Homo sapiens: one gene and its partners. The protein of the gene in region 7 purifies or fractionates together with the protein of the main gene of each other region. This does not show direct contact. Each region holds a gene or a part of one and is shown on either strand. Other genes may lie near its edges. The genes, in order: PAK2, AKR7A3, GLO1, CTPS1, LGALS9, PSMD5 and GMPS.

What was found.
Region 1: the proteins of GMPS (region 7) and PAK2 fractionate together in Homo sapiens (co-fractionation; one large-scale study listed by BioGRID). This does not show direct contact.
Region 2: the proteins of GMPS (region 7) and AKR7A3 purify together in Homo sapiens (co-immunoprecipitation; one large-scale study listed by IntAct). This does not show direct contact.
Region 3: the proteins of GMPS (region 7) and GLO1 fractionate together in Homo sapiens (co-fractionation; one large-scale study listed by BioGRID). This does not show direct contact.
Region 4: the proteins of GMPS (region 7) and CTPS1 fractionate together in Homo sapiens (co-fractionation; one large-scale study listed by BioGRID). This does not show direct contact.
Region 5: the proteins of GMPS (region 7) and LGALS9 purify together in Homo sapiens (co-immunoprecipitation; one large-scale study listed by IntAct). This does not show direct contact.
Region 6: the proteins of GMPS (region 7) and PSMD5 fractionate together in Homo sapiens (co-fractionation; one large-scale study listed by BioGRID). This does not show direct contact.

What each region holds. Positions count from the first base shown.
Region 1 is NC_000003.12:196,742,857-196,746,356, forward strand, and holds part of PAK2 (serine/threonine-protein kinase PAK 2), read left to right. Parts: intron 1-3,500. UniProt on the Homo sapiens protein: Serine/threonine protein kinase that plays a role in a variety of different signaling pathways including cytoskeleton regulation, cell motility, cell cycle progression, apoptosis or proliferation.
Region 2 is NC_000001.11:19,282,073-19,285,770, reverse strand, and holds the end of AKR7A3 (aldo-keto reductase family 7 member A3), read left to right. Parts: intron 1-656; coding exon 657-753; intron 754-985; coding exon 986-1,085; intron 1,086-1,645; coding exon 1,646-1,775; intron 1,776-2,878; coding exon 2,879-3,040; 3' UTR 3,041-3,198; downstream 3,199-3,698. UniProt on the Homo sapiens protein: Catalyzes the NADPH-dependent reduction of various carbonyl-containing compounds, including aldehydes, ketones, and toxic products from cellular metabolism or environmental exposure.
Region 3 is NC_000006.12:38,686,146-38,689,645, forward strand, and holds part of GLO1 (lactoylglutathione lyase), read right to left. Parts: intron 830-3,500; coding exon 747-829; intron 1-746. UniProt on the Homo sapiens protein: Catalyzes the conversion of hemimercaptal, formed from methylglyoxal and glutathione, to S-lactoylglutathione. Involved in the regulation of TNF-induced transcriptional activity of NF-kappa-B. Required for normal osteoclastogenesis.
Region 4 is NC_000001.11:40,993,196-40,996,695, reverse strand, and holds part of CTPS1 (CTP synthase 1), read right to left. Parts: intron 780-3,500; coding exon 628-779; intron 1-627. UniProt on the Homo sapiens protein: This enzyme is involved in the de novo synthesis of CTP, a precursor of DNA, RNA and phospholipids. Catalyzes the ATP-dependent amination of UTP to CTP with either L-glutamine or ammonia as a source of nitrogen.
Region 5 is NC_000017.11:27,637,688-27,641,187, forward strand, and holds part of LGALS9 (galectin-9), read left to right. Parts: intron 1-575; coding exon 576-667; intron 668-2,884; coding exon 2,885-3,086; intron 3,087-3,500. UniProt on the Homo sapiens protein: Binds galactosides. Has high affinity for the Forssman pentasaccharide. Ligand for HAVCR2/TIM3. Binding to HAVCR2 induces T-helper type 1 lymphocyte (Th1) death.
Region 6 is NC_000009.12:120,832,923-120,836,422, reverse strand, and holds part of PSMD5 (26S proteasome non-ATPase regulatory subunit 5), read left to right. Parts: intron 1-2,966; coding exon 2,967-3,111; intron 3,112-3,500. UniProt on the Homo sapiens protein: Acts as a chaperone during the assembly of the 26S proteasome, specifically of the base subcomplex of the PA700/19S regulatory complex (RC).
Region 7 is NC_000003.12:155,933,150-155,936,649, forward strand, and holds part of GMPS (GMP synthase [glutamine-hydrolyzing]), read left to right. Parts: intron 1-1,766; coding exon 1,767-1,897; intron 1,898-3,188; coding exon 3,189-3,361; intron 3,362-3,500. UniProt on the Homo sapiens protein: Catalyzes the conversion of xanthine monophosphate (XMP) to GMP in the presence of glutamine and ATP through an adenyl-XMP intermediate.

The DNA of each region.
Region 1 (3,500 bases), about 41 Mb from region 7:
TTGCAGTGAGTCGAGATCGCGCCACTGCACTCCCGCCTGGGCTACAGAGCGAGACTCCGTCTCATTAAAAAAGAAAAAGAAAAAGAAACTGGGTCAACTTCAAGACTTTAAGTCGTAAAGGTTTCCATCAGTTTGGTATAAGAGTTGAGTTTCCAGACTAATCAGAGGGAGGGTGTTAATTGCAAATTGTGTGTCCAAGCTCTTCCTAGTATCCTTTTTGTGCCTTAACAGAGCAGAATAGGAAAGGAAAAAAATCCCTCATTGCCCCCAAAAAATAAAATACTGGTTGTTTTCTTCTGTGATCAGAGTTGAGTTTCATCACTTCTTCCCTTCTAGGGTCACCTGCCTGGTTAAGGGTAGTCAGTCTGAACATTCATTCAGGATTTCAGTGTTCCAGCCTACTATCTCTGAGTTTCTTTAGTACTTACTCCATGTATCCCATGTGGTTAGGAGCTAGAGTCCTGCGTTTGAATTCTTGCTGTTCTACTTTACCCTGGGCAAGATATACATTCTTTTCAAGACTTGCTTTTCTCACCTGTAAGATGGGGATAATAATAATAATACCAATTTCACAGGGATATTTAGATCAAATGAGGGAATGCAGGTAAAGGATTCTGTAATTATAGGTCTTAATAAACGTTAGTTAATAGTCTGTTCTTACATGCTGTAGAGTCGATACTCCTAAACTTAGAATTAAAACTGCCTTCTAGGCCGGGTGCGGTGGCTCACACCTGTAATCACAACACATTAGGAGGCTGAGGTGGGCCGATCACTTGAGGTCAGGAGTTCAAGACCAGCCTGGCCAACATGGTGAAACCTATATTCTCTACTATTCTTTAGTAGAGAATTTAGTATTCTCTACTAAAAATAAAAATATTAGCTGGGCGTGGTGGCGGGCGCCTGTAATCCCAGCTACTCAGGAGGCTGAGGCAGGAGAACTGCTTGAACCCAGGAGGCAGAGGCTGCAGTGAGCTGAGATTGCGCCACTGCACTTCAGCCTGGGTGACAGAGTGAGACTCCGTCTCAAAAACAAACAAACAAACAAACAAAAAACTGCCTTCTAAAAGAACGAAGTTTCTGAGACCGTAACTAAAAATAAAAATTACTTTTGGATGAATAAAATGTAATTTTTCAGGAGAAAAAATATGTAATAGTTTCACCACTGAAATAAAACATAGGGTTTTTGAACACAAATTTCTCAGATTTAAAAATATGCATATTTCCTGTATAAAAGTTGAAAAGTGGGCAGTGGCTGGTGGTGCCTGTAGTCCTAGCTACTTGGGAGGCTGAGGATCCTTTGAGTCCAGGAATTTGAGGTCAGCCAGGACAATACAGGGGGACCCCATCTCTTAAATCAGACAAAAATAAAAGTAGAAAAAAATATTAAATAAGAAATTTGGAAAGTGGTAAAAACTTTTAAGACAAAATTACCTTAGTCTCAGCTGGCAGAACCATTGTAACAAACTGGAACAGTGGTTTTGTTCCTTATTTTAAATTTAAATTCTAAAAGCAGTACATATTTATTATAAAAGGTTCAAACAAGTCAATTAAATATTTAAAGAGTGAAAATTCTTTGGGAGACTGAGGCAGGAGGATCACCTGAGCTCAAGAGTTGGAGGTATAGTGAGCTATGATTGCACCATTGCATTCCAGCCTGGGTGACAGAGCAAGACCCTGTCTTATAAAATTCTTAAAAAGTGAAAATTACTTTCTCTTTTTAGTCCCATTCCTTAGAAGTACCTACCCGCTGTTAATAGTTTTACTTACTGAGTTAGAAATAAGTAGTACCTTTTGTGTGTCGGATACTTTTTATGTTGATTTTAAAATAAAAAATCTGATCATTAAGTATTGTTTTCCATATCATGACATATAGTGGCACCTCTACTTTTTAAGTCATTAGATATTATGCTGTATGGTAGTACTTTAATTATTTGTGATCATTTATGTTATTTCTAACTTTGAGCAACTAAAACTAGAGCCTTAATGAACTTATACGTATGTCTTTGTGCACATGCATATGTAGATAAGTATTTCCATTAAAACGACTTGTAAGTGTGCATTTAAATTTCTTTTTTCTTTTTTTTTTGAATTGCATTCCAAAAAGACTTGTAATGTATATTTCCTTATTGAGTTGTAGAAGCTCTTCACATGTAATAGATATTAATCTATTGCCTTCTGTTTAAGATCTTCCTCATTCCACCTTTACAAAAAACATTCTTATGTGTTTTCTTCTGGTACTTTTAATAATTATTGTGTTTCAATCTTTTTTTTTTTTTTGTGACAGAGTCTCACTCTGTCACTCAGGCTGGAGTGCAGTGTTGGATCTCAGCTCACTGCAACTTCCGCCTCCCGGGTTCAAGTGATTCCCCTGCCTCAGCCTCCCGAGTAGCTGGGATTACAGGCACCATACCATCGCACCCAACTGATTTTTTTTTTTTTTTTTTTTTTGTAGAGACGGGGTTTTGCTATGTTGGCCAGGCTGGTCTCAAACTCCTGACCTCAGGTGATCTGCCTGCCTTGGCTTCCCGAAGTGTTGGGATTACAGGCGTGAGCCACCGTGCCCAGCCCATTGTGTTTCAATCTTAATCTTTCTGGAATTTTTTCATGCCTGGTGGGGATAAAAGAGTTTTAAAATAGTTTTGCTACAGAAATAAAATACAGGTATAAAAATATTTGGCCGGGTGCAGTGGCTTACGCCTGTAATCCCAGCACTTTGGGAGGCCTAGGTGGGTGGATCACCTGATGTCAGCAGTTGGAAACAGCCTAACCAACGTGGTGAAACCTTGTGTCTACTGAAAACACAAAAAATTAGCTGGGTGTGGTGGTGCACACCTGTAGTTCCAGCTACTCCGGAGGCTGAGGCAGGAGAATTGTCTGAGCCCGGGAGGCGGAGGTTGCAATGACCTGAGATCAAGCCACTGCACTCCAGCCTGGGCAACAGAACGAGACTCCATCTCTAAGTAAAAAAAAAAAAAGAAGAAGTAGTAACTAGATTTTTCTGTTCATTGGTATTTTTATTATCTTACTGGACTTCAGTAAACGTCTTTATTTTGTTTTCCAGGTTCATTGTTTTATCTGAGAATAATAGTAACTTCAGTCACTTTTCTATGGTTACAATATTTAACCTTTTTTTTTTTTCTTTTTCTTTCTTTTTTAAAGACGGGGTTTCACCGTATTAGCCAGGATGGTCTCGATCTCCTGACCTCGTGATCCGCCTGCCTCAGCCTCCCAAAGTGTTGGACAGGCATGAGCCACCGTGCCCAGCCCTTAACCCTGTTTTAGGTCTTTATTACATTGGCCTGAAGTTCCAAGACTTGGTTAAACAAGAGACGTGTCGTTGTCTTGAAATGACTCTGGTATTAATATTTTTACAGTTAGGGATGATGGCAGCTGTTGGATTTAGAGAAAGATTATTATTTTATTCTGTTTCTGCTTTACAAAAAATAGGAATGGCTTCTGAATTTTATGAGATGCTATTGTAACATTTAGATGATGATATG
Region 2 (3,698 bases), on a different chromosome or scaffold from region 7:
CCTGCAGATGGCTCCCAGGTACCCTCAGGATGCCATTCAAGCTCCTCAGGCTGGCCACTGGGCATCTGCTTCCTTCCTGCCTATCTGTGCACCTTGGACCCTTCCTTCCCTACCTTCCCCTGCACTCAGCCTGGAACAAGCCCTTCCCCCACCACCGCCCCTTCCGTGAGAGAATGGTTCAGGTCTCACATACGTGTCTCTTCCTCTGGAAGCCTTTCTAGATGGGCCCAGAAGACCCTGAGACCTCAGGTCCTTGTTTACCTCCTCATGATTCATTGCACAAATATTTGCACACCTGCTTGGTGCCAGGCACTGGTCACAGAACTTTCTAGTCTATTATGATTGCCTCATGACTTGATTATAACTGTTTATACTTGACCTTATTATAAAACCTTGAGGGAAGGGACCCTGTCCTTTTGGCTTAAGAATCTAAATCTGACAACCAGCCCATAGTTGGTGCTCATGAAAGTTGGCAGAATGAATGAATTTTCCATGGGCATAAGCTTCTTTCACCAGCACCAGTTAGAATAAGTATACGCCCAGACGGTTAAAGTCCTAGAATTGTTAAGGTCTGAAATAAGGGTTCTGGAAGGGTAATTTTGAAGTCTCTTCTTTTGACACATCCACCCTCTCCCCCGGGGCCCCTCTCCTTACAGGGCATGTACAATGCCATCACCCGGCAGGTGGAAACGGAGCTCTTCCCCTGCCTCAGGCACTTTGGACTGAGGTTCTATGCCTTCAACCCTCTGGCTGGTACGTGGAGCATTCCTGGCCCTGTCTCAGCCTATTCCCGACCCACAGATGCCCAGCCCAGGACCTGGGAAGCAAGGAGGGTTTGACAAACTTTGACCTCTGAGGTCAAAGACGTAAAGGCTGCATCTTCAGCCCTCCTGGGTCCCTGCCCCTCCCCTAGACCAGAGCCCTGAGGGATGTGGCAGCTTCTGGGGCACTCTAGGCCCCGGGGCTGATTGCTGCTTTCCCTCAGGGGGCCTGCTGACCGGCAAGTACAAGTATGAGGACAAGAATGGGAAACAGCCCGTGGGCCGCTTCTTTGGGAATACCTGGGCAGAGATGTACAGGAATCGGTAAGCTGTGGGTGCTTGGTGTGGATGGCTGGGGTGGGGTCAGCTTTATGTGGAATGAAGTCCTGGGCTGCTCCTGGGGTAAGGCCTTTCCTCGCTGCTGCACCTACTCCCCTGAATTTCTTCGGGAATTTCCAAACCCTCCATCGGTTTTCTTGTTGTCTTGGGACCTCCAGGAGGAAAGGAGACTCCCTGGACCTCGGGGTCTTGAAGTCGTTGCTCTTTCCTGAGCAATCACCTGCTAGGAAGGAAAGAAGGAGCTCTGGAGGGAGGTCCAGGAGGCCTGGGGCTGAGTCCTGACCCATCTTAGCGGCCTTTGTGTCCCTAAGGAAAATAAGAGCAGGCTGATGAGTCCTCAGGAATAAAGATTTGTTGAGGTCTCTGCTGAGGGGCCCAGCATCCTGAGTGGTTCTCTTGCCCAGCAAAGTGGGAGACCCATGGCTAGAGAGAACACCTGCCCCTCAGGGCTGCAGGGTGTGGGGTGGGACAGTGGCCCTGGTTGGCTCTTTGGTTGTGGCTCCCAATGTGGCCCTGACACCTGTGCCACCGTCCCCCCTTCCCAGCTACTGGAAGGAGCACCACTTTGAGGGCATTGCCCTGGTGGAGAAGGCCCTGCAGGCCGCGTATGGCGCCAGCGCCCCCAGCATGACCTCGGCCACCCTCCGGTGGATGTACCACCACTCACAGCTGCAGGTAACCAGTGACCCTGTGCGCTCAGCTTCTTCCCTTCCAGGGGAACCAGCAATATCTTTAGATGAAGGCTGAAACATTTGTTTATCGATTCCTCTGAAATTTCTCTTTCTTTCAACTCTCACAAACATTCTTCCCACTGGTCTTTTTCTATGTTTTTTTTTTGGGGGGACAGAGTCTCACTCTGTCACCCAGGCTGGAGTGCAGTGGCATGATCTCGGGTCACTGCAACTTCTGCCTCTTGGGCCGAAGCAACTCTCTTGTCTCAGCCTCCCCAGTAGCTGGGATTACAGGCGTGCGCCACCATGCCCAGCTAATTGTTTGTATTTGTAGTAGAGACAGGGTTTCACCATGTTGCCCAGGCTGGTCTCAAATTCCTGAACTCAGACAATTCGCCCTCCTCAGCCTCTGAAAGTGCTGGGATTATAGGCGTGAGCCCCTGCGCTCGGCCTTCTCATTGGTCTTTGATGGTATCTGAGTGCCAGGCTTTGTAATGAGAGCTTCATTGCAGGGATTTCATTATTCCTTCAGCTTTATGAAATGACTATCCCAGTGTTATTGACGAGGAAACTGAGTTTCACCCAGCTATGAAAGGGGCAGACATTTTAACACAGGTTTAACTGTAAAGCCCACTAGTCTCATCCTTTTGGTGGGAGCTGGAGTTTCCCTCTCTCAGTGCCTCATGTCTTCCTCACTTATATCCAACTCCAGCCTTAGATGTTGCAATAGTGTCTGGCATATATACAGTAGGTGCTCAATAAATGGGAGCTAAGTGCTCTACATAATTTTTCACACCCATAACCATGTTGAAAATAGAAAAGAGGATTGAATCTCAGAGAGGTTTAATAACTTAGCCGCGTTTACACAGCTGCTGGGGGGCAGAACTGGGCTGTGAATGTAGGTCTGTCTGGAAGCGTCGTGTGGCAGTAGGGGAAGGGATACAGGTTTTGCGTCACATGGGTACAGCTATCCAAGGCACCTTAAGTTCTTTCTGGACATATGGGATACAAGAGATCCCAAATCTCAGCAGGGAGGTGGCTGGGACGGCTGTGAGTAGAGTCGCTGTGCAGCAGAAGAGGGTTGAAGTCTGGCCGTCTCCCTTGCAGGGTGCCCACGGGGACGCGGTCATCCTGGGCATGTCCAGCCTGGAGCAGCTGGAGCAGAACTTGGCAGCGGCAGAGGAAGGGCCCCTGGAGCCGGCTGTCGTGGACGCCTTTAATCAAGCCTGGCATTTGGTTACTCACGAATGTCCCAACTACTTCCGCTAGGCCCATCGTTTCTCAGGCTGCCCAAGGCTCTTCTGTAACATCTTTTGTTACTCACATTTTCTTTAATTTAGAACTGCCTCAGTAAATTCTTAGGGATGGAAGTATTTGGACAAAAACCTAATAGAAGAGTCACCACCAAATGAAGAATAAAACTCCCAGGGTGCTGTGTGTTAGTCTGTTTGCGTTGCTATAAAAGAATACCTGAGACTGGGTCATTTATAAAGAAAAGAGGTTTATTTGGCTCACCACTCTGCAGTCTGTACAAGGGGGTGTGGTGCCGGCATCTGCTCTTGGTGAGGGCCTCAGGAAGCTTACAGTCATGGCAGAGGGGGAAGCGGCGCCAGCGTGTCACATGGTGAGAGAGGGAGCAAGAGACAGACAGGGGAGGAAATTCCAGGCTCTTTTAAACAACCAGATCCTGTGTGAACTCATAGAGCTGGAACTCACTCATTACTATACAGATGGCACCAAGCCATTCATGTGGGATTTGCCCCCATACCCTAACCCCTCCCACCAGGCTCACCTCTAACATTGGGGATCACATTGCAACATGAGATTTGGAGGGGACAAAATACCCTGATGATATCATTGTACCAGTACCACCCCCCCGCAAATGTCATGTTCTTCTCACATTGCAAAGTACAGTCATCCCTTCCCA
Region 3 (3,500 bases), on a different chromosome or scaffold from region 7:
AGAACTTGGGGAGGGAAGCTATTACTTTTCATTTTGTATTTTTCTGAACTGGTCAAATTTTCTAAATATAGACATATATTACTTAAATTTTTCTCTCAATGTGAATGGAAGTTATCTAGGCACTAAATTTAAAGATTATTTTATTATTCATGTATCTATATGCTCAAAAGCAAAATGCTCACATAACTTAGGGAAACAAATCAACAATATGACAAAATTATTTCTCAATATACCTCAGTAAAGCTGGAGAAAAAAAGAAAAATAAACATGCTTTAGAAAAATAAGTATGCTTTAGGATTGCAAGATCAGTGGATATGACCTGTTGAGCAAAAGAAAACACAGCCTAGAAAAATAGAACAGATGGTCAGTTTTAAGTAAACCCATTGGTTTTCTGAGTAGTAAGTTCTTATTATCTATAACTTTTCTGAAGTAAACAAGAGGCTAAAAGTGGCCAGAACATCAAAAGGGGTCTGAACACATTAAGGATTTAGCTGGGAGCGCTCAGAGAAGGCAGACTGGAGAAAATGCAACTATTTGTGTCTTGTTTTGCCCTTTCAGGCTGGCTGGGATAGAGAAGAAAAAGAACTTACGAGAGAAGCCCTGTCCAGCCAGGCCTAATCACAGACTCCTGGCCAAAAGAACTTCTGTTACTTCTGAAACAAACTTTAAGATGGGTCTGAAAACACTCTCTAGATTTGCAAAGCTATATATTTAAACATTAAGGTGCCAATAAGTACTTGACTTACGTCATTCCAAGAACTCTAGTATAAAAATCCAGTGACTTCTTAGGATCCTTCACTCGTAGCATGGTCTGCTGCAATAGAAAATCCTATGGAAAAATATTTATATTAAACATCTTTCACTTTTACCATTTATTACCAACATTAATTGTGCTTTCTGTAACAAGATACAAACACAATTGTTAACCTACCACCTACAACTTGCAAGGGCTCTCTGCTCAGTGGTATCTTCTGGTTGCAGGCCCCTGTGTGATGCAAGTCCAAAGTGTCAGAAAGTTTCCACTGCAGGAATGACCTTCAACCAATGGTCGATAAAAAACCTGGCATCCCTGTCCCTTGGTGGGACAATTCAGAGGCAGGTACCACAAAGTCCCTCAAAGAATCCCCAGCAGGATTGAACCTCAGTTGCCCACAGTGGTAATCCACTCGTATACACCTATGATCACCCTCTCTCCCTAACTCTGCAGAGCTCTCTGTGACCACTTCTCAAAAACTTAAAACCACACCATTCTCTCTAGTCTGCTTTGGGGCTACCCAAACTAAGACACTGATTTTACACATAAAGAGGTTGATCACTACAATATTTGTTGAATGAAGGCATAAATGCCCTTCTAGAACCATTTACTGGTGACCACGCAAATTAGCAAAGAGTTACTCACAAGATCCTAGACTCCTAAATAACTAAAAGGGTAAAAAGTTACTGTTGCTAACACCTTTGGGAAATTCAACTTACTTATCAGGAAACAGAAGGCTTGACTGAGAAAAGGGTAGAAGGTATGTAAATTCATGGAGTTAAGATTATTAATAGCATTAATAATTCTACTTAGGACTTAACTAGGTGTAATAACTCTATATGGTATTACTGTCGATATTCATACCCCATGTTGTAGATGAGAAGCTGACACTGAGTAATTAACTGTTTAAGGCCTCTAAGTTTTGGTCTCCCTTTACCATTGGTATGTACCTTCCAGACCATAAGTCTGTGAACCTCACTGGTGCTTCCTAACAGATTTTTTTTTTTTTTCTGTTAAACCCATGGCTTGACAAAACAGGCCTGAAAATTCTGACCACTTACTTTGGAGCCACATGCCATCTTTCTCCTATATAACTCACATCATATAAAATACAAATATAGTTCATTCAGCCTCATTAGGAAATTATATTTTTCTCTTTTGCTAAATTTTAAGTAAATGAAACATACTCTTTTAGGCATTAAAATTCTCATTTAAAACAAAACTAGCCTAAAAACTACTTTATCTTATTAAAACTGATCTTAATAAATATAATAATTAAATTCTTTATTCGCAGCTTATAATCACATGCCAGGCAGGTTACATGTTTCTAGAACATTTGGGTTGCTTTTCTCAGTCAGATGCTACAGTCCTAAAGGTCTCGATTTTATCAAGCAGCTGAGAAAGAGAAAAGTAGCTCTGCACATCCAAGTGCTGGCCTGGTACTCACAGCTGGGCCTTGGTTTTCTCCTGTTGAACATATATAAAGTCACTCTGTGGCTGCCATGATGTGATACCAAAATAAAAAAAAAAAATTTAAAGCAGCAAGACCATGTCCACTTCATATTCCGGTCTAAGTATACATTAAAACAAGGCACTATGAACACTACCAAAATAACAAACATCCTTCTTTCCCAGCTAATATGAGTGGTAGCTGCTTCTCTATTGATTACAATGTTTGCTTGAGGAAGCCACCTGCAGGACAAAGTCTTATGTATGATCTGTCAGGCCCGACCACACACAATCACACAGACTTTAGCTGGCAGGCCTCATGGGGGAGATCTGTCCTCCCAGCACTGGTTCTCAGTCTCAGGAGGGAGCACTGCAGTCCCTGGAGGGAGGTGCAAGCAAGGACTAAATTCTAAAGATGTCCTTCCTTATTCTCTCAAACACTAACCTAGGTGCTGCTGTGAGAGACTCTGAGAGGAAATTAAGGTCACTCATCAGTGGACTTTAAAATGGGATTAGCCTGGATTACTGAGGTGGATTCAATGTAATCACACAAGACCTTAAAAGCAGGAGAGAGAGAGAGCGAGCGTGCGCGCGCAAAGAAAGTAGAAGAGGAGTGTGGCATAAAGGGAAGTGGGACAGATTCCAAGTGTGAGAAGGGGCCAACCTGCAGGTGCTGGCTCTGAGACATGGGGCACATGTGCCAGGAGTTAAAGGCAGCTGCCCTCTGCTCCCACCCCACCATACCCATCCACGCCTGACAGCCAGCAAGGAAGCTGGGACCCCTGTCCGACAGTGGAAAGAAACTGAATTCAGGGAACAATCTAAATGGATTTAGATGCAGATTCTTCCCCAGAGCCTCTGAGTAAGGAACACAGTCCTGTCAATACAGTGGGACAGACCCAAGTCGGACCTCTAGCCTATGGAATTATGAGATAATATATTTCCAACCAAGCTGCACCCAACATTATTTGTTGCTCAGTTTTTTTAAAAAAGGATAAAATCTAAAAACTATCTTTTAAAATCTGCTTTGTAGTGACCCTGTTTATGTTTTGTTTCTTCAACATCTTTCTAGTACCAACATTAGTATTGGTACTTTACCAACGACTTTATCATTACTTCTGTTCACACTATACAGGCTATACTCAAATCCATATATCTTAGGCACAGCATGTATTTTTTGTTGTAGATGCCATGCCAAGTACTTGCCAAAGTTAGACAACCTTAACTATTCTATCCCATAGTCTATCATATCCTTATCTTACAATCTTTCTGGAAAACAACTGGAATATCAAGAGTC
Region 4 (3,500 bases), on a different chromosome or scaffold from region 7:
ATGAAAAATGATTCTCACAGAGCAACGGAATGAGTATGCCCTCTCCAAATGCTTCTAGGCCATCATATTGATCTTGCAACTAAGATAAGGCCTGCCCATTGCTCTAAGACACGAAGTGAAGATTTCTGAAGGAATGTGACAGCATCACCGAGCCTTAAAAGGATGTAGTGGAGTAGGCAGCAACACATCCCCGTCCTAATGTGATCCCTTTCTGGTGTGGGGTGAGACACATTCCCAAACACAGCTCAGAACTCTGGAGTGGTACCCAGGAGTGCTCCAGCCACTGTCAGCCATTCGTGTGGGCTTTGGATATGCACACTCACCCGCTGCCACCAGGACGCCCATCTGCACTGATCTAGTTGGTAAGAGACAAGCGTGTTAAGACATAACCCGAACTCATTGTCTGGAGGCCCGGCACCTGGCCTGGCCCTATCAGGATCTCCTCATCTGTGCCACAGCTACGTGACAGCTAAGATCCTTTCTGAACATCTCTTACTACAAAGGCTCTTCTAATGAGTGGATGGCAGAAGTGCAAAAGTACAAAAGTGCTAGGGCTAGAGTCGGCTTCACCAGCCCTACAAAAGAGTAAAGGAGGCTAGCACTCCCAGCTCCTCATTGCAGGCAAACCTGTCAGCCATCTCTTTCCATTTCATCAGCATTTTTCTTGGCTGCCTCTCAATAGGAAGGTCAAGTCTTCGAAGAAAATAATCTACAACCCCTTGCTCCTCTAACAACAAGGGGACTCGGTAGATGGATGAGACATCGTGGACACAGATCACCTGTTTAGAAAAAAGCAAGTTATTAAATAAAAGCAAAAACTCACCAGGCTTACAGCCTCCTACTAGCTACGTGACCTTGTAAAAATATTATGTATTTGAAAACAGAAAAAAGGACAATTTTCTAGATAAACTACTAAAACAGACTCAAGAATAGAATAGAAAATTAGTGGCCAATCTATTATGAACATGGATGCAAAAGTCCTTTAAAAAAAATTCATGGCTGGGCAAGGTGGCTTATGCTTATAATCCTAGTACTTTGGGAGGCCATGGCAGGAGGATTGCTCGAGCTCAGGAGTTCAAGACCAGACTGGGCAATATGGTAAAACACTGTCTCTACAAAAAAATACAAAATTTAGCCAGGCATGGTGGGCATGTGCATGTAGTCTCAGCTAACTGGGGGGTAGCTGAGGTGGGAGAATCACTTGAGCCTGGGAGCTTGAAGCTGTAGTGAGCTGAGATTGTGCCACTGCACTCCAGTCTGGGTGACAGAGTGAGACTCTGTCTCAAAAAAAAAAAAAAACACCCAAAAAATTAGCTGGGTGTGGTGGCATGTGCCCATGGTCCCAGCTACTCGGGAGGCTGAGGTGGGAGGATCACTTGAGCCTGGGAGTTGGAGGTTGCAGTGAGCCAAGATCGCATCACTGTACTCCAGCCTGGGCAACAGAGCCAGAACCTGTCTTAAAAATAATAATAATAATAATTCATGATCCAAATCACAAATGTAGCTTTAAAAAAATCATGTCCACGAACCTATGAATGGCTTAACTAGGAACAGTGGTTCTCAAACTCAGCTGCATATTGGAATCATTCAGAGCTTATAAAAGGTCAAAAGCCCATGCTGCACCCCAGACCACTTGAATTAGGATCTTGTGGGGTAGGAGGCAGGCATCAGTATTTTTAAAGCTCCCCAAGTGATTCCAGTGTGCAGTCAAGTTTGAGAACTACTGTGTTAGGAAATTTAACAGTGGAATTCACCACATAAATAGAAAACAGATTAAGGAGGAAAACAATTCCCTCAGTAGATGTAGACTTGATAAAAATTCAAAACCAAATTCATAATAAAAATTATTGGTAAATTAAGATTAGGGAAAATTTGGCAATATAAAAAACCCACAGTAAACATCACATGGTTTAATATTAATGTTTACTATTTAAAGTCCAGAACAAGGCCAGAATGGCCACTTTCAGTACTTCTATTCAATGATGTACTGAAGATATTAGCCATTATCATTAGATAAGAAAAAAAAATGAACCAGAAAACAAGAAGCGGTTGCCACTGAATAATGCATACAATATCACTGCTTATCCATAAAAACCAAAAGAATTTACAGGTAAACAATCAGTACTAATAGAATTTTAGTAAGGTTGCTAGGCTGTAGATGAATGGACAGAGGTCAGCAGGGTCTCCTACACATGGGGTATTATCTAATCAGAAAATATAATTTTTAAAAATACACGGTAGTAATAAAAATTATGAATAGCTATAAATAAGTCTAAACAACTTTATGAAGATTAGTAAATCTATAATGTACCTTTATTTTTAAAAAGTACAGAATAGTATCCAAGGATAGTCTTTTCAACAAATGGGGCTGAGGCAAGTAGATATCCACATGTAAAAATTTCAACCCTTACCTCACACTACACACAAAAGTTAACCTAGAATGGATCATGTAAGACCTAAAACTAACTTTTACAAGAAAATCTTCATGACCTTGGTTAAGAGCAAGGAGTTCTTAGACACGACAGTGAAAGCACAATCCATAAAAGAAAAAAACAGATTGGACTTCATCGAAATTTAAAAGTGTCTGTGCTCTAAAAGACACTATTAAGAAAATGAAGGCCAGGTGCGGTGGCTCACACCTGTAATCCCAGCACTTTGGGAGGCCGAGGCAGGCAGATCACCTGAGGTCAGGAGTTCGCAACCAGCCTGGCCAACTTGGCAAAACCCCGTCTCTACTAAAAATACAAAAATTAGCCAGGTGTGGTGGTGCATGCCTGTAGCCCCAGCTACTCAGGAGGCTGAGGCAGGAGAATCGCTTGAACACGGGAGACAGAGATGGCAGTGAGCCAAGATCATGCCACTGCACTACAGTCTGAGCAACAGATCAAGACTCCATCTCAAAAAAAAAAAAAAAAAAAAAAGAGAGAAGAAAATGAAAAGACAAGGCACAGATAGGGAGAAAATATGTGAAAATCACATACCTGATGAAAGACTTGTATTCAGACTATATCAAGTCAACTCAGTAAGATAAACATTCCAATTAAAAGAGTAAGTAAGGCTGGGCATTGCCGGCTCACGCCTGTAATCTCAACATTTTGGAAGACTGAAGCAAGAAGACTGCCTGAGCCCAAAGAGTTCAAGACCAGCCTGGGCAACCATAGCAAGACCTCATCTCTACAAAAAATAAAACAGCTGAACATGGTAGCGTCCGCCTAAGGTACTAGCTACTCAGGAGGCTGAGGCAGGAGGGCTGTTTAAGCCCAGGCTGCAGTGAGCTGTGACAGCACCACTGCACTCTAGTCAGGGTGACACAGCAAGACCTTGTCTCTTAAAAAAAAAAGGCAAGGCCAGGCGTGGTAGCTCACACCTGTAATCCTAGCACTTTGGGAGGCCAAGACGGGTGGCTCACCTGAGGTCAGGAGTTCCAGACCAACTTGGCCCGCATGGCAAAACACCATTTCTACTAAAAATACAAAAATTAGCTCGGCATCGTGGCAGGT
Region 5 (3,500 bases), on a different chromosome or scaffold from region 7:
AAGGTCACAGTGGCCATTGTTATATGGTGGTGGTGGGGAGAGGGGGATGGCTTCTTCTTAACCTCCTCGGGTGAGTCGAAGGTTTACCCTCCAGACCCTTGATGGGTCCCTTTGGTCCCTTGGGCTTCCTGAGTCTCCAGCCAGGGCCTGGGACCTTTGCTGGGAGCTTAGCATGGGGTCCAGCAGCCCCCATTGCTACCTAATTCCTTAGCAGCCCAGGGTGTCTGCCTGCTACTTCCCTGCCTGGAAGGAAGGCCTTCTGCCTGGTGCATTCCTGCTGCAGCCTCCACTGCCTCTTAGACTCTCACACAAGCTCAGCTCCCTGTCGCGTCCTCTCAGGGCCAGGCTTCTCCTTATCACAAGCTTAGACTGTCTGAGTAACTAATTGGATTTGTGTTTGCCTCCACACAGGACCCTAAGACCCGTGGGGCTGCGACTCCCTCTGTACTGGTCACAGCCGCACCCTATCCCCTTGCATGGGGCTGTCAAACCCAGGCTGGCCACTGACTAGCGCTGGAGGGGAGCAAACGGGAGGCCGGCCACCTGACTGATGTTCCCACACCTTCTCCCTGCAGGCTGTCCCCTTTTCTGGGACTATTCAAGGAGGTCTCCAGGACGGACTTCAGATCACTGTCAATGGGACCGTTCTCAGCTCCAGTGGAACCAGGTGTGTGTGTATATGGATGGAAACGTTTCACTCCAGCCTCGTCCCTTAGTAAACCACTGTGCCTGTGAGCCTGGGTTAGTTCAAACAGCAACATCCAAGCTCACGTGCCTGGCTCAGGGGAGGCCCAATGCGTCCCTAACCCATGCCACAGGGCAGCACTCCACAGGCACAACCTGCACCCAGGGGTGCCATTAACCTGGACTCCAGGATGAATGGGGCCCTGGGAGCTGACGGTCTAAGGAGGGCGTGGGATGGTCAGAGTTGGATGATTATGTTCTGGGTTGAACCTTGCACACTGTGACTAAGAGTTGCAAAAATCAAACTTCCTCCATTTCCCGTAACTGCTCTCATCCACTCTGAAGCTCTCCTTCTGCTGATGTGAAAATATTGAAAATTGCCATCAAAAGTAATTTGGTCTCTTTTGGTTTCAAGGCCTTTTCTAGAAACTACTAAGTCAATTCAACATACTAACATTGTATCAGGGCTGTTTCCCACCCCCTCCTCCCTCCCAAGGTGGGCTGTCTGGGAACAGAGAAGAGCTCACATGGCTTCTCAGTGGCTGGGAGGGCTCTAGACCCTCACTCAGGCCTGGCTGACCCCTGCCGAGGCACCCCGACCGGGTGGCACAGAGGTGTGCAGCTCTCTCCTGGTTTAGTGGGGGACCATGGGTGGCTGCCTGCTGAACTCTGCGGGGCCCACAGAAGAGCCTCTGGACTCATGACTCTCTCTCGGAAGCCTCTCTGCCTCAGTCCCAGGGGACCTCTCCTTAAGACCTTCTGGGCCTCACAGATCCCAGCTAAACCTCAGCTTGGACACCTAGATTCTTGGTGACCTCCTCCGCCATTGCCATCCTGCTGTGGGACTTCTCTGAGAGACTGCGGTGCCCTCAGGAGATGCCAAGGGCAGGGAGGCCCCGATCTCCCTGAACCCTCCAACCAGGGGAATCAGGACCATGACCCTGATCTTCCGCCCCTTCCTCTCTCCCTCTCCCTCCACCTCCCCCACCCCCCAGCACCAGGAGGGCTTCCCACTCCCATCCTGTCATATAGAGACAGATCCTACCTCAGAGGGCCCTCTCCTCTTGGGAGCTTTCTGTCTCTCCCTTCCTTGGGGCAGGAATTTCGAAAGGACTACAGGGATGAAGCTGAAGGACTCCAAAGGAAAAAATACATGCAGATATATTTCAAATGCAATCTTCTCCATTTATTCATTTAATTAATTAATTTTTTTCTTTTGAGACAGGGACTTTCTTTCACCCAGCCTGGAGTTCAGTGGTATGATCATAGCTCACTGCAGCCTCAAATTCCTGGGCTTGAGTGATCCTCCCATCTCAGCCTCCGGAGCAGCTGGGACTACAGGAGTGCACTATGATGCCCAGCTAATTATTATTATTATTATTTTGAGATGGAGTCTCGCTCTGCCACCAGGCTGGAGTGCTGTGGCGCTATCTGGGCTCACTACAACCTCCGCCTCCTGGGTTCAAGTGATTCTCCTGCCTCAGCCTCCTGAGTAGCTGGGACTACAGGCTCATGCCACCATGCCTGGCTCATTTTTTGTATTTTTAGTCGAGACGGGGTTTTACCATGTTGGCCAGGATGGTCTCGAACTCCAGACCTCGTGATCCACATGCCTCAGCCTCCCAAAGTGCTGGGATTACAGGCGTGAGCCATCATGCCCAGCCAATTTTTTTTTTTTTAACTAGAGATGAGCTCTCACTATGTTGCCCAGGCTGGTCTCAAACTCCTGGGCTCAAGTGGTCCACCCGCCTTGGCCTCTGCGCCCAGCCCCAATTTCACATGCTCTTTACATTTGTTCTCTTCTTTCCCATTTAATCAGGCATGTGCTGGCCTCCAACAAGTGTCCACTGGCACAGAAGGCTCTCTCTTCTAGGTGTGCTTAACAACTTCCATCTTCGGTATCAATTGGTAATCACTTTCCAAGACCTATGTTTCTTGTTTGCTAATACCAGCACTTTTCCTTAACCGTTTTCTATTTGCTTTTAGCAAATCATGCTGTAAAGGCAAAATCCAATAATTAAAACAAAAACACATTAGATCCCAATTAGAAAAACAAAAACGATGCCAACAAAGCAGTCTCTGCCATACAGGTTGTGTGCAAGATCCAGACAAATGCAAAGCACAGGCGCCGAGGCCCTCCTGTGCCTGTCACTGGCAATAATCCATGCCACAGAAGACTATTTGCTTTCCCTGGGCCTAGGTTTGCTGTGAACTTTCAGACTGGCTTCAGTGGAAATGACATTGCCTTCCACTTCAACCCTCGGTTTGAAGATGGAGGGTACGTGGTGTGCAACACGAGGCAGAACGGAAGCTGGGGGCCCGAGGAGAGGAAGACACACATGCCTTTCCAGAAGGGGATGCCCTTTGACCTCTGCTTCCTGGTGCAGAGCTCAGATTTCAAGGTGAGCAAGAATCCCCTCCCCACCTCTCACCCCTGGGACCCCCAGCCCTATCAGGTGAATGGCCTTTAAGTAATCACCTAAATTGACATTCAGCCAGAGTGACACCACTATACAGATAACACGCTCATTTCCTTGTGAGGTGTTACCCATGGCTGCCTAGTCTCCTTATGCACCTTCATCTGAATCTACAGGTGCACCTGCTGCTTCTTTTACTCTGAAAATAAGAACTAGAGGAGTCATCACGTTGCTATTTGGTGTTGTGTGTCTTTGAATTCCAAGCTCATTCCATTCCTCTGCTATAGCCATTCCTCCTCTCCAGGTCACTGGTAACATTTATTTTTCAGCGACATCGTTCCAGCCTTTATCCAGGGTCTATTAAGGGTATAGTTTTGTAAGCACATTGCAAATTACCCT
Region 6 (3,500 bases), on a different chromosome or scaffold from region 7:
TCCATCTCAAAAAAAAAAAAAAAAAGTACAGATGATAAATATGCACGTAGAAAGATATTCAACATTAAATAGGGAAATACAAATTAAAATTACAGTGAGATTCTACTGCACACTATTAGATTGGCTAAAATTTTAAAAGGCACAGAAGCAATGCAACCCACATGTGCAACCAAAGTGTCTATGAAGGGATGAATGGATAAACAAAATGGGGTATATACATATGATGGGATATTGTACATCTTGCCTCAAAAAGAAAGGAAATTCTGACAGATGAACTTTGAAGACGTTGTGCTAAATGAAATAAACCAGACACAAAAGGATAAATGTTGTATGCTTTTACTTACATACCTAGAGTAGTCAAATCTAGAGAGACAGAAAGTGGAATGGTGGTTGCCAGGTGCTTGGGGAGGGGAGAATAGGGAGTGTTCAATGGATGCAGAGTTTCTGGTTGGGAAGAGGAAAATGTTCTGGAGATGGACGATGGTGATGGCTGGACAACAAAGTGAATGTACTTATTCCCACAGAACTGTGCGTTTAAGAGTGGTTAAAATGGTAAATTTTACCTGTAATCACATTTTTTTTTTAAAAGGAAAAGAAAACCATACTTGTAAGTATCCTCATTCCTCCTCTTCCCCGTTCCTCCAGCCTCTGGCAACCAGGAATCTACTTTATTTTATTTTATTTTTTTTTTTTGAGACAGAGTTTCGTTCTTGTCGCCTAGGCTGGAGTGCGATGGCGCTATCTCGACTCACTGCAACTGCCGCCTCCTGGGTTCAAGCGATTCTCCTGCCTCAGCCTCCTGAAGTAGGTGGGATTACAGGCGCCCACTACCACACCCAGCTAATTTTTTTTGTATTTTTAGTTGAGATGGGGTTTCACCATGTTGGCCAGTCTGGTCTTGAACTCCTGACCTCAGGTGACCCACCTGCTATGGCCTCCCAAAGTGCTGGGATTACAGGCGTGAGTCACCGAGCCTAGCGGAATCTACTTTCTATATGGATTCGTCTATTCTGGACATTTCATATAAACAGAATCATTCTCAAAAGGAAGCCTTTTGTGTCTGGCTTATTTCACTTAGCATAATATTTTAAAGGTTTATTCATATTGTGATATGTATCATTACTTCATTGCTTTTTATGGCTGAATAATATTCATTATATGCACATAACACATGTTTATCCTTTCATCACTTGGTGGACATTTGGATTGTTTCCACTGCTGTGAACATTTGTGTACAAGTTTTGTGAAAATAGCATGTTTTCAATTATCTTTGGTATAAAAACATTCTTAATACTACCTTAGGTTCAATTATGCAAAGTGAAATTCCTGAATTAAAAGAGTATGTTCATTTTTAAGGCTTTTCATTTGTATCATGTAGTTACCTACCCAAAAGGTTGTATCAGTTGAATTGTGTACTACTACTAACAATATATTAGCCCATTTATTTGTAGTGTCTATTAAGAGACAAGAAAATTGTTCTGAAAACATCTTCTGTATCTACCACTGGTAGTCATCAGTTTCTCTTACATAGTTCTTCCCTCTTCTCTCTATCCTCACTGCTGCTCCCCTGGTTTACTCCTTCATCACCTCTCACCATTTACTGCCTTGTAATTGAAAATTCTTCCCCTAACACTGGTGCAGAGTGAATTCTATAAGTCAGATCTCGTCATTTTACTTCTTTAAGACCACTTATGGCCTGCCATTGATTTTCTGGAAGAAGTCTAAATTCCAAGCATGACATAAAATACCTGTTAGAATCTGGCTTCTGTGCATCTTTTCAGTTTCAGTTCTTGTCCTTCACCTCACCCTTTTACCTTCTCACCACCTCTCTCCCATTCTGACCCCAATCATACCAAACTACTTGTTCCTTGAAAGTATAATACTATGTCTTATTCCTCTCTGCCTTTTCATGTGCTGCTACTCCCTCTACCTAGAACACTTTTCTTCTGGATAACTCCTACTTTTTCTTAAAATTTAGTTTAGATGTTACCCTTCTGGGAAGCCTTCCCTGTACCCTCTGTTCTTTTTTAAGCTCCTATAGTTTCTAGTCTTAGCCCATAGCGTTTATTTATCTGGATTACAGTTGCCTTTTTTTTCTGTATCTTTCATTGTATTGAGCTCCTTAAGACTAGAGAATATATCGGGCCAGGCACGGTGTCTCACACCTGTAATCCCAGCACTTTGGGAGGCTGAGGTGGGAGAATCACAAGGTCAGGAGATCGAGATCATCATGGCTAACACAGTGAAACCCCCGTCTCTGCTAAAAATACAAAAAGTTAGCCGGGTGTGGTGGCATGCACCTGTAGTCCCAGCTACTCGGGAGGCTGAGGCAGGGGAATTGTTTGAACCCAGGAGGCGGAGGTTGCAGTGAGCAGAGATCGTGCCACTGTACTCCAGCCTGGGCAACAGAGCGAGACTCTGTCTCAAAAAAAAAAAAAAAAAAAAAAGGCCAGGTGCGGTGGCCCAAGCCTGTAATCCCAGCATTTTGGGAGGCCGAGGCAGGTGGATCACCTGAGGTCAGGAGTTCGAGACCAGCCTGGCCAACATGGTGAAACCTCGTCTCTAAAAATACAAAAATTATCCCAGCATGGTGGCAGGCCCCTGTAATCCCAGCTACTCGGGAGGCTGAGGCAGGAGAATTGCTTGAACCTGGGAGGTGGAGGTTGCAGTGAGCCAAGATCAGGCCATTGCACTCCAGCCTGGGCGACAGAGCAAAACTCCACCTCAAAAAAAAAAAAAAAAAAAAAAAAGAAGACTAGAGTGCATATCTTATTCTTCTCTGTTGCCCCAGCACAGGCAATGCGCATAATAGGTACTTAGCAAATGTTTAGTAGGTGAGTGAAAGCTGCTGTTTCAAAAAGAAGTCTGTGTGGAGGAGACGCTGACGCAAGCTTCAGCTATTATTAGGTTGTTACTTCCTACCTGGGCAGGATATGAACTAATAAGATTTATGATGTCTCCTTCAGGGAAAAGACTACTTTGTGTGTATCCATTCTGGAGAGATTGCTCCAAGCTATGGAACCGGTTCACGTGGCCCGGAACCTCAGGGTTGACCTGCAGAGGGGACTAATTCACCCTGATGATTCTGTAAAAATCCTCACTCTTTCCCAGGTATGAAATTCTACTAGGAACCGACATTGACCACCTGCTCTGGGCCAGGTTCTGCACTGGGACAGAAAGATGAAGAAAGCACAGTATTTCTCTCTCTCCTTCCCTCTTCCTTCTCCCCCTCTCCTCTGCTCCCTCTTTCCCCCTAGGAAATGTGTGGTCTATTCCAATGTGCATAGCTAACTATAACCTGGGAGATACAAGCTAAAGAAAGAAGTTCCATTAAGTACCATCTAAATCATTCATTAATCAGATACTGACTGAGTTCCTTTTACATGCCAGGCATGGTGCCATATGCTGTTAGAGTTACCAAGATAAACAAAACTGATTACTTTCCTTCAAGGAGCTCCTAGTGTAAAGAAAAAGATTCCTATGTGTTCAAATAGCTCTCT
Region 7 (3,500 bases):
CCACTGCACTCAAGCCTGGGCGACAGAGCGAGACTTCATCTCAAAAAAAGGAAAAAGAAAAAAAAAAGAATCTTGGTGAACTTTAGATTTATTTGCTGGGGTCTTTTTGATGAATTGGAGTTTAAAAATATTCTTCCCTGTTTGCCGGTTTTTTTCCTAATTTGGATAAGGGAATCTTTGTACAGGGAGGGACTGTTCCAGTTTTACTGTCATATATAGTGTGGGTAAATACCTGTCCCAGTACACTCTAGTGATTACTTTTGTTTGTAAGAAATGAGAAGGTGAAAAGAGCAGGTTCATGGCATTCTCTTAACTTTCTCCTGTAAAGATCTTTTATGAACTTTAGGAACTGTATTGTTTAGAAAAATTATAACTTACTGTCTATACGTGGGACAAAAACCTTGCTTCTGTTGTAGTATGTTTGGAAGGAGACAATAAAGTAGTTGGTGATACCGGTGGTTTTGTGCTAATATGGTTTTCTATTGTGTATTTTACCTAAGTACATATTAAGAAAAGAAGAAAAAACATTAAACTTTACCATGATAGTTTCCGGGGAGATTTATTTTCTTTGCTAAAAACAGGACTAACGAAAAGTGAATAGGGAGAACTAGCTAAGTGGCACTCATATCTCTACCCTGATTCCCTCTTGTTTTCTGGGTGAAGATTGTGAAACAGATCCCTTCAAACCAGTGGCCAGCTACACTTCAAGTTGTTAAAATTGTCTGATTCTAATTTCCTCAAGTTATGTTCCAAACTGTACTCTCATTAACTCAAGATATTTGTGGTGTATCTTCATGTCTTTCAAACAGACATTTATATAAAACACTAATGAATCATTTTTTTGGAAGGAAGTAGTAGGATACTAAGTCCTATTTCAATGGCCTTTTTAATGAAGTGCAAATGAGAATCTCTCTAGAATGATTGTTTCTCAAGTAGAGAAAAAAAGATGAGTTTACTAATTTTGGGAAATTCACTGTAGTTTCCTCTTGGAGATTTCCAGTGCATGTTAGCATAGTATATTAATAGTTTCTGAAGTCTTGTCATAAAGACACCTATTTTTAAATTTTAATTGTGTATTTGTTTCCTAGGACTACCCATAACAAATCACCACAAACTAGGAGGCTTAAAACAACAGACATTTATTCTCTCACAGTTTAGGAGGCCAGAAGTCTGAATTCAGTGTTGGCAGGGTCATATTCTCTCTGAAGACTCTAGGGGAGGATCCTTCCTTGCTTCTTCCTACTATCGAGTGGTGGCAGCATAGTCCAGTCTGTCTTTGTGTTCACATGACCCTCATTCCCCTGTGGGTATCTGTGTATCCAAATTTCCCAGCACTTGGAAGGATACCAGTCATTGGATTAGAGCCCATCCTAATCCAGTATTACTTCATTTTAACTTGATTACATTTGCAAAGACCCTTTTTCTCCCCAGAGATTCTGGGTGGGCATGAAGTTTTGGGGATACTCTTCGACCCAGTACATTAAGTGAAAAGAGAGTTGTAATAATCACTTATATCTTTGCACATTCTGAGATACAGAATATTCCAGAGAACACACTTTGAGGAAAACACGTAGAACACAGACCTTCCTATAATCTTATATCTTGTCCTATCCATCTGGGGAGTTGAAGTGGGCAGGAGAAGGGCCTGAAACTAAGTGGGAAATGGAAAGAATGTTACTGTTCTAAGTGCCTTGCTTCTCATACTAAAATGTAATTTCTACATTTGAAATGTAATTGCTGTATTATTTTTACCTCTTTGTTTCCAGAGTTGTTTATATATTTGGCCCACCAGTTAAAGAACCTCCTACAGATGTTACTCCCACTTTCTTGACAACAGGGGTGCTCAGTACTTTACGCCAAGCTGATTTTGAGGCCCATAACATTCTCAGGGAGTCTGGTAAGTTGCTCATGTTTTTGATTACTACCCTCTGAAACTAGTTTTTGGAAGCTTGATATTAAGAGTAGGAGGATGTGGCTTTTGCTTTTTAGATGCTTTTGTTTTTATTATTTAAATCTTTGAATGTTCTATGATGTTGCTTTTTTTTCTTGAGACGGAGTCTGTCTTGCTCTGTCGCCCAGGCTGGAGTGCAGTGGCACAATCTTGGTTCACTTCAGCCTCTGCCTCCTGTTACAAGTGATTCTCCTGCCTCAGCCTCCCGAGTAGCTGGGATTACAGGCACCCGCCACCACACCTGGCTAGTTTTTTGTATTTTTAGTAGAGATAGGGTTTTGCCATTTTGGCCAGCTGATCTCGAACTCCTAACCTCATGTGATCAGGTCAGGAGTCAGGTCAGGCCAGCCTTGGCCTCCCAGAGTGTTGGGATTACAGGCGTGAGCCACTGCACCTGGCCTATAATGTTGCTTCTAAATAAAATATATTCCCCTTTGTGGCCATTTGTGGACATGCACAGAGCAGCAGAAAATTTGAATTTCCAGACTTAGATGTTCCCAGCTGAGTTTGAACAAGGTGACGCTATGCCTTCTTGTTTTCAGCTCTCATAATGTGAACAAGTCTTTTTCATGGTCTCCTTGATGCTATATCTTTTGCATTTTTATGTCTTTTGTTGGTGATTTTGCTGTTTAAAATGGATCTCAACTATAGTGTTGAAGTGCTGTCTGGGTTCCTAAGCACAGGAATGCTGTGATGTACCTTACAGAGAAAATCTGTGTGTTAGATAAACTTCATTCAGGCATGAGTTAAAGAGCTACTGATTGTCAGTTCAGTGTTAATGAATCTATAATAAATATTAAATACAGTGTCTTAAATCAGAAACACATAAAACAAGGTTATATATTAATCAGTTGATGAAAATATTACAACCAGAGGCTTGCAGGAACCTAACCCTCCATTTCCCCTGGGAGAAATGGTTCAGTATTCGCTAATTCGTTGTTTGCAGTGTAGAATATAACTATACTGCAAATTATAATAGAGAATAATGAGACTGGACTGTTTCTGTTTACAGCACATCAGTGAAACATCACTGATGTGATCAAATTCTGTTTTTTGCATTTGTGATTAAGTCCATTTAAAATGCTCTGCGAGTAGCTGAAATCAATGCATGATGACAGTCTTAACTACGCTGTGTGTGTATATGTGATTTCAGATATTGCCTGGGAGGATTTAATTGAACTGAGTTAGAGTGCTTTTCTATGGTGTGGTGATTGGTTCTACATATACCTTTCTCTAGGGTATGCTGGGAAAATCAGCCAGATGCCGGTGATTTTGACACCATTACATTTTGATCGGGACCCACTTCAAAAGCAGCCTTCATGCCAGAGATCTGTGGTTATTCGAACCTTTATTACTAGTGACTTCATGACTGGTATACCTGCAACACCTGGCAATGAGATCCCTGTAGAGGTAATTTATATATTTTTTTCTAATGCACGTTCTCAGTACCTCTTACATTTTATAATATGGTGAATGGAATAGGCTATGCCAGTGCTGTATTTCTTATGTTGGTTTTCTGTTCATAAGATAGGCTTTTTTTTTTAAATTT